Linked DNA regions of Homo sapiens. The protein of the gene in region 4 purifies or fractionates together with the protein of the main gene of each other region. This does not show direct contact. Each region holds a gene or a part of one and is shown on either strand. Other genes may lie near its edges.

Region 1 (3,500 bases), on a different chromosome or scaffold from region 4:
AGGCAGGAGAATCACTTGAACTCGGGAGGTGGAGGTTGCAGTGAGCTGAGATCGTGCCATTGCACTCCAGCCTGGGCAACAAGAGCGAAACTCTGTCTCAAAAAAAAAAAAAAAAAAAAAAAAAACTTTTGGAGGTCTTGATTCTTGATGTGGTGGCAGTGGATATGTGGATATTGACATAACTTGCCCATCCCTCCACCTCCCACAAAAACTTTTGAGGTAACCACATGGGTTTAGACCTCCAGGTAAGACTGGGTAAATGTAAGGGAAAGGTATAAAATATGGTCTTCACTCACAAGAAATTTGTAATTTAATTATATTTAATTCTGCAAAGTAAGTGCAAAAAGGAGATATCAGATGGCATTTATGGAAGACATAATTGGTTGTAACTGAACCAGTGCCAAGGGGCTTCTTTGTTTTTTCTTTTTTCTTTTCTTTTTTTTTTTGAGATGGAGTCACTGTTGTCACCCAGGGTGGAGTGCGATGGTGCCATCTCGGCTCACTGCAACCTCAGCCTCCCAGGGTCAAGCGATTCTTTTGCCTCAGCCTCCCAAGTAGCTGGGATTACAGGTGCAAACTGCCATGCCTGGCTATTTTTTTGTATTTTAGTAGAGACGGGGTTTCACCGTGTCGCCCAGGGTGGTCTCAAACTTCTGAGCTCCAGCAATCCACCCTCTTTGGCCTCCCAAAGTGCTAGGATTACAGGCGTGAGCCACCACACCCGGCCCTGTTTTTTATTTATTTATTTATTTTTGTCCTTATTTATGTTGAAGGACTAGGGACTTCTTACAAGTGTGCTTGATTTGGTAGATTCCTCTGGTGCTGTATCAAAAAAGAACAAATTTAAAAACCAAGTATACTTGGTTTAGAAAGGTTTCATGGGGTAAGGATTACATGTTTGAAAGGAAAAGGCAACCTAGTGAAACAGTAAAAATATGCATCAAGGAAGAGATTCAAAAGAAAGTTCAGGCCGGGCGCGGTGGCTCACGGCTGTAATCCCAGCACTCTGGGAGGCCGAGGTGGGCAGATCACCTGAGGTCAGGAGTTTGAGACCAGCCTGGTCGACATGGTGAAACCCGTCTACCAAAAATACAAAAATTAGCCAGGCGTGGTGCCGGACACCTGTAATCCCGGCTACTCGGGATGCTGAGGCAGGAGAATCGCTTGAACCCAGGAGGCAGAGGTTGCAGTGAGCCGAGATTGTACCACTGCACTCCAGCCTGGGTGACAGAGTGAGACTCCATCTTAAAAAAAACAAAAGGAAGTTCAGGAAGTGGTTTGTCATCCAGGTTGCCCTGGACACTTTTGCATCCCATTGGGTCTTTGGGATTTTCTTTGTAGTATATCTTTCACGTTTTCTATTTTTTATCATATGAGATGATTATAGTCACCTGTATAAATGTTTCCTTATTAAGTAGTCACTATGTGCAAGGTGCTCATATATTTATTTTGTTTATGTCTATTATCTTTAGGTCAGATGTCATGTAATCCTTCCTTTGGTGGCATCGGAAAGGGACATTTAATGAGGGAAGTAGATGCCTTGGATGGCCTGTGTTCTCGCATCTGTGACCAGTCTGGTGTACATTATAAAGTATTAAACCGGCGTAAGGGACCAGCTGTGTGGGGTCTGAGAGCTCAGATTGATAGGAAACTCTATAAACAGAACATGCAGGTAAGAATAGGGCATGAGCACAGGAAAGATTATAGTGATTGTTTAATTACCATGTTTCAACTGGCATTTTCTTTTGACAGAAAGAAATCTTGAATACACCACTGCTTACTGTTCAGGAGGGAGCTGTAGAAGATCTTATTCTTACAGAACCAGAGCCTGAACACACTGGGAAATGCCGTGTCAGTGGGGTTGTTTTGGGTACGTATTGGTTATAGATGGTGTATGATAACAGCATATCAAATTCCATGTGAGAAATTTATTTTAGAGCAAAGTGTGGAGATATGTTGCTTATTCAAGGAACTTGTTGCATTTTCTCTACCTGGATGAGGAAAACTATATAAATAAATATGTTTCTCTTTTCATCTTGGCATTTATGATGCTCAGTCAAATTCTAGGCTCATCAGTACCATGTTCCATCTTAGTGTAGAACTTTGTAATCTGCATATTTATGTCTCCCTCTCTCCCCATCTTTCTATTGTAATTTCTGTTTTTTCTGGTTCTGACTTTAATTTTTTAAAAAATTCATATTTTAACAGCTTATATATATTTTTATGTAAAAGAGTTATGTATGTTTTTTATCAAAATAACTCATGCATATAATTTTTTCTTAAAATATTAAAAGGGTCTGGGCATGGTGGCTCATGCCCGTAATCCTAGCACTTTGGGAGGCCGAGGTAGGTGGATTGCTTGAGCCCCAGAGTTTGAGACCAGCCTCGGCAAGATGGCAAAACCTCATGTCTACAAAAAAATACAAAAATTAGCCGGTGTGGTAGCAGGTGCCTGTAGTTTCAGCTACTCAATAAGCTGAAGTGGGAGGATTGCTTGAGCCCAGGAGGTTGAGACTTCAGTGAGCTGTGATTATGCCACTGCACTCCAGCCTGGGCAACAGAGTGAGACCCTGTGTCAAAAAAAAATAAAAAATAAGTTTGGGTGTAGTGGCTCACACCTGTAATCCCAACACTTTGGGAGGCCAAGGCAGGCAGATCACCTGAGGTTGGGAGTTCAAGACCAGCCTGAACAACATGGAGAAACACATCTCTACTAAAAATACAAAATTAGCCAGGTGTGGTGGCGCATGCTTGAAATCCCAGCTACTCAGGAGGCTGAGGCCAGAGAATCACTTGAACCCAGGAGGCGGAGGTTGTGGTGAGCCGAGATCACACCATTGCTCTCCAGCCTGGGCAACAAGAGCGAAACTCTGTCTCAAAATAAATAAATAAATAAATAAATAAATATAAAAGAAATTTAGAAATTTATGTGGGAAAACAACCATCTCCTTCCCTGGAGACAGACACTTCAGCTTTTTTAGTTGTCACTTATTGTATATACTTCCATATTTCTGAATAGCAGGCTTATCTTTTTACTTCCTAATTTACAGTTCTAGACATTATCTATTAACTTTTTTTGTTTGTTTGTTTTTGTTTTTGTTTTTGAGACGGAGTCTCACTCTGTGCCAGGCTGGAATGCAGTGGTGCGATATCGGCTCACCACAACCTGAGCCTCCCGGGTTCAAGCGATTCTCCTGCCTCAGCCTCCTGAGTAGCTGGGACTACAGGCACGTACCACCATGCCCAGCTAATTTTTGTATTTTTAGTAGAGATGGGGTTTCACCACGTTGGCCAGGATGGTCTTGTTCTCCTGACCTTGTGATCCACCCGCCTCGCCCTCCCAGAGTGCTGGGATTACAGCTGTGAGCCACCGCACCCAGCCATCTATTAACATTTTTTGAGACAGAGTCTGGCTCTGTTGCCTAGGCTGGAGTGCAGTGGTACCATCTTGGCTCACTGCAACGTTCCCCTCCCAGGTTCAAGCAATTCTCCTGCCTCAG
Region 2 (2,646 bases), on a different chromosome or scaffold from region 4:
GGATTGAGCGGCACCGCCAGAAACCCTGGCTGCTTTTTTCCGGATTGGGTTGTGTGTGGTGTGTTTATCCTGAGATGGTATAGGCAGGGCTTTGGAAGGGGCGGCTGAGTGTGCCACGTTCTGCCTCATCCCAGATCCGGGAGACACGGAGGACTGTTCGGGATTCAGACAGTGGACTGGAGCAGATGTCCATTGGGCATCACATCCGGGACAGGGCTCACATCCTCCAGCGCTCCCGAAACCATCGCACGGGGGACCAGGAGGAGCGGCAGGACTATATCAACCTGGATGAGAGTGAGCCTTCCCTCCCGCTTCCTGGCTGGCAGCCCCTAACCCGGTTCCCGTGGACATCCCTAACACATAGACACTTCTGGGGCAAAGCTCTGGGTCAGCCCCATATTCCTTTTTTTTTTTTTTTGAGATGGAGTCTCGCTCTTGTTGCCCAGGTGCCCAGGCTGGAGTGCAGTGGCGCGATCTCAGCTCACTGCAACCTCCGCCTCCCGGGTTTAAGCAATTCTCCTGCCTCAGCCTCCCGTGTAGCTGGAACTACAGGCATGTGCCACCACGCCCAGCTAATTTCTGTATTTTTAGTAGAGACAGGGTTTCACCATGTTGGGCAGGCCGTTCTCGAACTCCTGACCTTGTGATCCACCCACCGACCGTTGGCCTCCCAAAGTGCCGGGATTACAGGCATGAGCCACTGCACCCAACTGTCAGTCCCATATTCTTACCGCACTTGGAGCCTCCTCCGCTCGGGCGGAGTCAGGTGCTGGCGGTGTCTTTGTGAGGGGCCTACTTTGTCCCTGAAGTTCCGTATTGATAGTGTTACACCCTTCTCCACCTTGATCCGTTTCTTTCTCCCCTCTTTATCTTTTTCAAATCCGCAATTATTAAGTACCTAGTGTGCACATAGGACTGTGAACCTGAACTGAAGAATAATCCCATTCTGATTTCTTCCTCCAGTAGGCCACCTTACGCCTACCGGTGGCTTCCTGGGACCGTGCAGAAACCAAAAGAGCTAAGGGAATTGCCACCCCACCCATCCCTGCACGCACACTCAGCCTTCGCCGCTTTGGCCCGAAAAGCTGTGGCTCGCTCGCACATCGGCCTCCAGGAGCCAGGCCGCACACAGGCCTCATGTCCGCTCTGTCCTTTCCAGGTGAGGCCGCAGCGTTTGATGACGAGTGGCGGCGGGAGACCTCCCGATTCCGGCAGCAGCGTCCCCTGGAGTTTCGGCGGCTTGAGTCCTCAGGGGCTGGGGGACGAAGGGCGGAGGGGCCTCCCCGCCTGGCCATCCAGGGACCTGAGGACTCCCCTTCCCGACAGTCCCGCCGCTATGACTGGTGAGGGCCCCGGGCCCTCAGCCTCTCTTGTAAGTATCAGGAGTAAGGAGGGTGGGGTGCACCTGCGGACGGTCCTCGGCTGCAAGGCAGGCTCAGTTCAGGCTCCCGCAGGAGCTGCCTTTGGTAGTACAAGTTGACATGGAAAGAGAACAATGTTCTCACTGACATAGGGGATTAAACCCCAACTCCTGGCTCTTAACGTAAGTTTTTTCTTCCTTTTGACTTGTGCTCCTCTCTCTTTCCCCCTCCAGGTACAGGCTGAGAGGCTGAGAAATCATCCCCTGAATAACTTTTTCCTCTCGATTCCCATCCCCAATTTAATATTAAATTAACAGGCAAGCCGGCCCCCACCTCTCCCTGGGGGTCTCAGGGAGAACCTTTCACGGCACCCTTTCCCTACCTTTTCCTTCTTTAATCTCCTGGTTTACCATTGATGACTTCGCCTCTGCATCTACTGACTTGATTTTTCATTCTGCCACTCCATCTTCAAACCCCCTCACCTTTCCCATCCTACTCCTGCCATGCATTGAAGGGTCAATGCATTTTGGGGTGAGCTCTGGGTTTAGGGGCCCCCTCCATCCCTCAGCTACCCTGGATCTTTGCCCACCTCTTCCTCAGAGCCCCCACTGAGGGGCCGTAGCCCTATCTAGGGCTGTGGAAGGAGCAGACTGGTTCCTAACTCTCTCCCTCCTCCTGCCCACACACATCAAAAGAATCTTCCCTACACCCTTCTCTGCCTTTATTTTTTGATTTGTGCAACTTGTAACTAGGTGTTTATGGAATAAAGGAGAATGGAAAAAAGACCAAGTGGGATTCTGGCTGTACTTTTGATCTTTTCCTGTTCAATTCAACCCTGCTGTCTCCTCTGAAGTTACCTTCTCACTTTTCCTCGTCTCCACCTGTAGTCTTCGTACCTCAGAGTTCAAGCCCACATCTCCTTGGTACGGACAGACCATCAGCACTGCCAGGTGCAGGCCGTGAGCACTTGGCTGGGCTAGGCTGGGGCGTGAGAACATGAGCACCTCTCTCGCTGGCTCTTCCCTCACATTCTGCTGTAACTTTGCTCTTCAGGGATGTGTTGGGCATCTCTCATGGGTGCCTGCGGAACTTGCTGCCCCTTGCCCCTTGGACAGAGTTTCTTTCCTGCACTCTGGGTGGAAACACTTCAGATAACCCTACACAGGCCTTCAGAGGGGAGGAACTCTGGTCTGCAGCGTTCCACAAACCCTCCACCCACAGTAGTTGAGAATTTGAGCCCAGGGAAGGAGCCTAGAGAAGAAAACTAACCTGGAACCTGAGCAGG
Region 3 (3,500 bases), on a different chromosome or scaffold from region 4:
TCATTAGAGTGCAATATTTGCTTAGTTTTTTTCCTTTTGAGGTAAAATTTATGTAGAAGAAAATATACAAATCTTAAGTGTACATTGACTGAGTTTTGACAAATACATACACACATGTAACTCAAACCCAGTCAAGATATAGAACATGACCATCACCCCAGAAAGTCTTTTTCCTGACCTTTCCTAATTTATTCCTACCCTCATCTTCAGAGGCAACAAATACTCTAATTTTTTTCTTTCTGTCATACATACACATCTATTCTGCTTTGCTGAGAGTGTTTTCTTTTCCTTCAAGAATGTTGGAGCCAGGCATGATGGCTCATGCCTGTAATTTTAGCACTTTGGGAAGCTGAGGTGGCCAGATCAGTTGAGGCCAGGAGTTCGAGCCCAGCCTGGCCAACATGGTGAGACCCTGTCTCTACTAAAAATACAAAAATTAGCTGGGTGTGGTGGCGGGCACCTGTAGTCCCAGCTACTTGGGAGGCTGAGACACGAGAATCGCTTGAACATGGGAGGCGGAGGTTGCAGTGAGCCGAGATCGTGCTACTGCACTCCAGCCTAGGTGACAGAGCAAGACTCCGTCTCAAAAAAACAAAAACAAAAGAATGCTGGATTTTGTCAAATGTTTTTTTCTGCATCTATTACTATTATCACAGGATTTTTTTCTTTTTTAATCTGTTGGTGTGATACATTACATTAATTGATCTTTGAATGTTGAACTAGCCTTGCATACCTAGAATAAATCCCATTTGGTCATGACGTGTATGTTTAGCACTCAGTATCTCCAGGGGTTTAGTTCCAAGACCTGTGCAGATACCAAAGTCCACAACAGGGAGGGCATGGAAGCTCCCCACCACCTTACTTTGCTCTGTCCATCTCTTTATCTGTATCCTTTGTAATATCCTTTATGATAAACTGTTAAATATAAGTATTTCCCTGAGTTTTGTGAGTTATCCCAGCAAATTATCAAACCAAATAAAATCAGGTGCGAACCCTGATTTATAGCTGGTCAATCAGAAGCACAGATCACAGCCTGCGACTTGTGACTGACATCTGAAGTGAGGGGCAGTCTTATGGAACTGAGCCCTTACCATGTGGGATATGACATTATCTCTTTTTTTTTTTTTGAGACAGAGTCTCGCTCTGTCGCCAGGCTGGAGTGCGGTGGCGCAATTTTGGCTCACTGCAACCTCCGCCTCCCGGGTTCAAGTGATTCTCCTGCCTCAGCCTCCCGAGTAGCTGGGACTACAGGCGCCTGTCACCACACCAGGCTACTTTTTGTATTTTTAGTAGAGACGGAGTTTCACCATGTTGACCAGGATGGTCTTGATCTCTTGACCTTGTGATCCACCTGCCTTGGCCTCCCAAAGTGCTGGGATTACAGGCGTGAGCTACTGCGCCCGGCTCGATATGACACCCTTTCTAGGTAGATAGTGTCATTATTTAATTGAATTATAGTTAGTGTCTGTTGGAGAATTGTTTAGGGATTGGGGGAAAAACTTCACATATCTGGTTATCTAAGGGTTCTGTGTCGAATATGAGAGTAGAGAGAAAAACCTTTATTTTCCTTTGACAGTGTCTTATCATATTTATAGCTGTTTTCTGTTTTGTTATACTTGTTTCCTTTTTAAACAGTCTTCCCCTCCTCTTTTGCCCTCTCTGGTTTTAATTGATCATGTGATATGATTTAATTTTTTTCTCCTGTCTTAGCATACCAATTATGCTTCTTAAACAATTTATTTAAGTGGTTGTATTACAGTTTGTGCTGTTCACTTAAAACTAGTCCAAGTCCACGTCCAAATAACATTATAGGTCAGGTATAGTGGCTCACGCCTGTAATTCCAGCATTTTGGGGGACTGAGGCTGGCGGATCATTTAAGGTTAAGAGTACGAGACCTGCCTGGTCAACATGGTGAAACCCCATCTCTACTAGAAATACAAAAAATTTGCTGAGCATGGTAATGTGCGCCTGTAGTCTCAGCTACTCAGGAGGCTGAGGTATGAGAATCTCTTGAACTGGGAGGCAGTGAGCCGAGATTGTGCCACTTCACTCTAGCCTGGGCGACAGTGCGAAACTCTGTCTCAAAAAACACAAAAACAAAAATCCCACTATACTACTTCATGGAAAATGGAGGTAGTATATGTAATACTCTATCTTACAATACAGTATACAGATTCCTCCCTTCTGCCCATTGTAACATTGTTGTCATTAATTTCACTTACCTATAAGCTGTAATAATCCAATGCATTGCTGCTATTAGTATTTTAGACATTTTTCTATTAATTTAAGAATAAGGAAGAAAAGACTTAATTTACCTTCATCTCTTAATTCTCTAATGCTCCTGTGAATCTGAGTTTTTGGTTTAAATCATTTTCCTTCTTTCTGAAGAACTCCTTTATTTATTTGTTTTTTTTAATTTTTGAGATGGAGTCCTGCTGTGTTGCCCAGCCTGGAGTGCAGTGGCGCAGTCTCTGCTTACTGCAACCTCTGCCTCCTGGGTTCAAGCGATTCTCCTGCCTCAGCCTCCTAAGTAGCTGGGACTACAGATGCATGCCACCATGCCCAGCTAATTTTTGTATTTTTAGTAGAAATGGGGTTTCACTATGTTGACCAGAATGGTCTTGATCTCTTGACCTAGTAATCTGCCCGCCTCGGCCTCCCAAAGTGCTGGGATTACAGGTGTGACCCACCACACCCGGCCTATCTTAACCATTTTAAGTGTACACTTCATGTCATTAAGTACACTTACATTGTGCAACCATCACCACCATTCATCTCCTGACTTCACCATTATTCATCTCCTGAATTCTTCATCTTGCAAAACTGAACCACTTACCCGTTAAGCAATGACTACCCATTCCACCGTCTTCCCAGACCCCAGTAACCGTTATTCTACTTTTGATGTCTGTAAATTCGAATACTTGAAGTATAAGTGGAATTATACAGTATTTGCCATTTGTTATTGGTTTCTTTTACTTGGCATAATGTCCTCAAGGTGCATCCGTGTTGTAGGAAATGTCAGCATTTCAATAATTTTTCAAGCTAAATAGTATCCCATTGTATGTATATACTGCATTTTGTTTCTCCATTCATCTGTTGATGAATAGTTGGGCAGCTTCCACCTTTTGGCTGTTGTGAATAATGGTGTTATGAATGTGGATATTTTTCTTTGAAGTTCAGTCTGTGCTGTCAGATTTTTGGGTTACATACCCAGAAGCAGAATTACTGGATCATATAGTAATTCCATTATCAATTTTTTTGAGGAATTATCATACTACTTTCTATAGTGACTGCACCATTTTACATTCCTACCAACAGTGTACAAAGGTCACCATTTCTCCACATCCTCACCAACATTTATTTTCTCTTTTTTTGATAGTAGTTATCCTAATGGATATGAGGTGGTATCTTGTAGTTTTCATTTACATTTCTCTAATTAGTAATGTTGAACATCTTTTCATGGGCTTATTGACCATTTGTATATCTTAATTGGAGAAAC
Region 4 (3,500 bases):
TCCATATACAGAGCATTCCATTAAGTTCATACAGTATCAAGTATCTAGCCACCCCCTTCCCACTGGACATGTAGGTGATTCTCCCCCCGCCTTTTTTTTTTTTTTTTTTTGCTATTATAGATAAAATTGCAGCAAACACCTTCATGTATATAGCATTTTGCGTCTGTTAAAGTCAGTCTTTGGCTGAATCAAAGGGTGCTTTTTTTGTCTTCCAAAGCTTCTGCTTCTGTGTGCCAGTGGTTTGCAAAGATGGAATGACTGACAGTCAGTCTCACAGAAGTTATAATTCCCTGTATGTTTCTGTTGGACAGACTTAGTCATCAACTTAGAAATTCACTTTTAAAAAAAGCATCACACACAGCAGCAGTTTTCCTATTTTAAGTGAGATAATTTTGAGAAAACTAAGTGGGAGGTAGTCCATGAGATATTCTGTACCACTGATGAGACAAGGAAGCTTAAACTACTGGCTCATCAGGCATCAGTGACAGCATCTGTTCTTTGGATATGACATTTTATAATAAGGAGTGGAGCAGGTGCTGGAGGATTAGTATACAATAAATACATCTTCTCTAAGAACTTTAAAGACGGGAAGTTTTTCTCCGCCTAGAGAATAATCTGAAATCAGAAGAGATGGATTTCTGAGAAAGATTTCTCCTAGCCCTGTTCCTATCTGGAGAAAACCAGCTGGTGGGTCTAAGAGTAAGAGGAGCAACCATGCCAGGGAGCACCCTGACTCTGGGGCAAATGTGAGCATTAGAGGTAGGCACATCCTGGCTCATAATCACCCTGTCAGACACAGAGTGCCCTCCACTCAAAACACTCAAGCAGAGAGTAGCCATCCAGGGTGTTTCAAAAGGAAGTTCCTTTATCCTGGGAGGCTGAGCCGGATTACATCTCTTCCAACTCTAAGATTGTCTTCCCTCGCCCAGAACAAACAGGATGAAGTACAACTCTCAACTGTCTCCAAGAGTTGTTTTCTCTTCCAAGCACCATACATTCATTCAACAAAACATTTATTCAGTGAGCACCTATGTGTCAAGCACTGTGCCAGGGTAGAGCATAAGTGTACAACACAAAATAAAATCTCCAAAGGAAATGGATTTAAACTTTTTAACAAAAGGAATTTGGGTCAGGCATCAGAGGAAACTTACTGACCGTGAGGGGCGTTAGACACAGGCATGGGAGACTGAGGGAGCTTGTGCAATCTCCTCCGCTGGAGGTCTATAAAGATAGTCTAGGGCTGGAACAATCCCACCTAGAGGCAGGGGGAAGGACCAAATGACCTCACAACATCTCTGGGTCTGCTTCGTCATCCACAAGGCAATTCCCCTGAGGCCAGCGGCAACTCCCTCTTCCCCCTACCCATCAGAGGCACTTACCACTGAGCTCTTCTCAAGTAGGCTTTTATGTAAGTGTCATCAAGCTTCACTGCATTTGTGCAGTCTTCTATTGCATCATCTAGTTTCCTAAGCTTCAGGAGAGAGAGAGCAATCATACTTCACACCTTTGGTGACTGAGGGAGCCCAGAAGCTGTGAGCATGGCTTCAAAACTCTAAGAGGATCAGTCATGCTGGCCCCTTAAATGTCATATTAAGTTCTAGTTCTTTGTCACCAGGGCTATGGACAGCAACTTCAAAATTGATTTCTCTTGTATATGATACAAGCCAGGCACATCTGTCTTCAAGGATAAACTACCTTTACCATTCCATGTTAGTGCCCAATGAAAACATGAAAATAGTAAGGCTGGTTCCTGCCCTCCTTTTTTCCAGAGGTCACCTGCAGGGATCAGAAATCACTCTGATTTTTAACTGCTAGAATTCTGCAAGGGCAAGGAGTCTACTTTTTGTTTCTGATGTTGGGTAGGGCCACAAAAGCACTCAGGCCATTTTCAACCATGCATGGTGACCATCAATTACACTGGAGAAAAACAAGCTTGCCTCATACTCTTCCTCCAAATCACTCCTAAAAAATAAATGATCACTTGCATAAGCAAAACAACAAAAAAGCAACAGTAGGTGCTTAAGATTATCCCACAGACCCTAGCCATTCTCTTACTGGAGGAAAGGGACCTTAATGAACAGGTGAGAATATCCTTGCAAATTGTCCAACTGCCCTCAAATTCCATAGAGATGACAAAAGCTTGCCTCTTGGAAGGGAGTTCCTAACAAACTATTAACCATAACAACTTTCCCTCTTTCATCTTGCTTACCCTCACTAGGCAGATTTCCCAAGACCCTTTGATGTCCCTTAAAAATATTTCTATAGGCCCCAAGATCTAGATCAAGAGCTTACCTTGGAATTAACCGTACCCCGATTACAGTAGAGTTTAGCATTTGTTTTTATATTGTTGGGGTCTATCCCCAGGGCTTCTGTGTACAGTTCATATGCTAGTTTGTAATTTCCTTCCTTAAATGCTTTATTCCCATCTTCTTTCTTTGCTTTGAGTGCTTTGGCATTCTACAGAAAAAAGCAAGGGGAGGATCGGTTCATATCCACAAAGCCTCAGACCATTGCACAGAGAGGCCAGACTCTATTTTCAAGTTCTTTGCTTCCAGCAGTTCAGCATCACAGAGCCCCGCCAACCCCCAATCTGGGCTATCTGTTGCTCATTTGAGCTTCCTACAGAGTGGACAGGAAAAGAGTTACCAAAAATACCAATGAGACCTATGTTACTGGGTCTGCCTTCACTTCTCAGGACAAGTATTACTATCTATCTTCACTGAGGGGAAAAACAAAACAAAAAAACCCTCTTAGATATTAAAGGCATCCGACCCTATATGATCACATCTACCTTTAGGTAAATACAAGTAGTCCTGAAACCATTTCTAATAAAGACCAAGCATCCTTGCAAAGCAGGAGGAAAAGCTATCACATTCCTTGTGATTCTAAAACCTTCCACTCTAGCCATCTTAAAGGTCCCAAAAGGAAGCTCTTTCCCAGTTAGGTCTGGTGACTAGAACTTACTCTGCAGGCAATGCAGGCCTTCTCGTGGTCAGGAGCCATCCTGAGAGCCTGTACGAAAAACTGAACTGCCTTCTCAATACAATCTTCGTAATAAAGGCAAAGACCTCGTACATACAGAGCATCTGCATTGGTGGAATCCATTCGTAGAATGTCACTGCAATAGTCAGAAAAGGGCACATTGAGCTGTGCTTTAGAATGTCCCCACCATTACTACCATTTGTGGCCAGTTTTCCTCCTTGACCATGTGTCTAGCATTCAAAATATCCAAAGGTAGACAGATTCCCAAGAACTGTTCCCAAACTTTCCCCAAATAAACCACCTATAATTATCTTTAATACACATCTTGTGTCTTACAATCCTTATTAAACTAGAACAGGGTTTGGCAAACTACAGCCCACAGGGCCAAATCCTTTCTGCCACTGGTTTTTGTAAATAAAACACTATTCAAACAGCCACACCCATTGGTTCATCTATTATCTAGGGCAACCTTTGCACTGCAATGGCAGAGTTGAGTTAGTTGCAACAGAGACCCTGTG

The links.
Region 1: the proteins of DNAJC7 (region 4) and MTO1 purify together in Homo sapiens (co-immunoprecipitation; 3 studies listed by BioGRID and IntAct, with this or other methods). This does not show direct contact.
Region 2: the proteins of DNAJC7 (region 4) and MLF2 purify together in Homo sapiens (affinity purification with mass spectrometry; 3 studies listed by BioGRID and IntAct, with this or other methods). This does not show direct contact.
Region 3: the proteins of DNAJC7 (region 4) and VPS13A purify together in Homo sapiens (affinity purification with mass spectrometry; 3 studies listed by BioGRID and IntAct, with this or other methods). This does not show direct contact.

Annotation. Positions count from the first base shown.
Region 1 is NC_000006.12:73,464,737-73,468,236, forward strand, and holds part of MTO1 (5-taurinomethyluridine-[tRNA] synthase subunit MTO1, mitochondrial), read left to right. Parts: intron 1-1,472; coding exon 1,473-1,672; intron 1,673-1,752; coding exon 1,753-1,870; intron 1,871-3,500. UniProt on the Homo sapiens protein: Component of the GTPBP3-MTO1 complex that catalyzes the 5-taurinomethyluridine (taum(5)U) modification at the 34th wobble position (U34) of mitochondrial tRNAs (mt-tRNAs), which plays a role in mt-tRNA decoding and mitochondrial translation.
Region 2 is NC_000012.12:6,747,496-6,750,141, reverse strand, and holds the end of MLF2 (myeloid leukemia factor 2), read left to right. Parts: intron 1-134; coding exon 135-294; intron 295-1,159; coding exon 1,160-1,347; 3' UTR 1,348-1,372; exon of another isoform or gene 1,373-1,594; 3' UTR 1,595-2,146; downstream 2,147-2,646.
Region 3 is NC_000009.12:77,184,034-77,187,533, forward strand, and holds part of VPS13A (intermembrane lipid transfer protein VPS13A), read left to right. Parts: intron 1-3,500. UniProt on the Homo sapiens protein: Mediates the transfer of lipids between membranes at organelle contact sites. Binds phospholipids. Required for the formation or stabilization of ER-mitochondria contact sites which enable transfer of lipids between the ER and mitochondria.
Region 4 is NC_000017.11:41,986,440-41,989,939, forward strand, and holds part of DNAJC7 (dnaJ homolog subfamily C member 7), read right to left. Parts: intron 3,119-3,500; coding exon 2,965-3,118; intron 2,458-2,964; coding exon 2,293-2,457; intron 1,472-2,292; coding exon 1,380-1,471; intron 1,256-1,379; exon of another isoform or gene 1,156-1,255; intron 1-1,155. UniProt on the Homo sapiens protein: Acts as a co-chaperone regulating the molecular chaperones HSP70 and HSP90 in folding of steroid receptors, such as the glucocorticoid receptor and the progesterone receptor.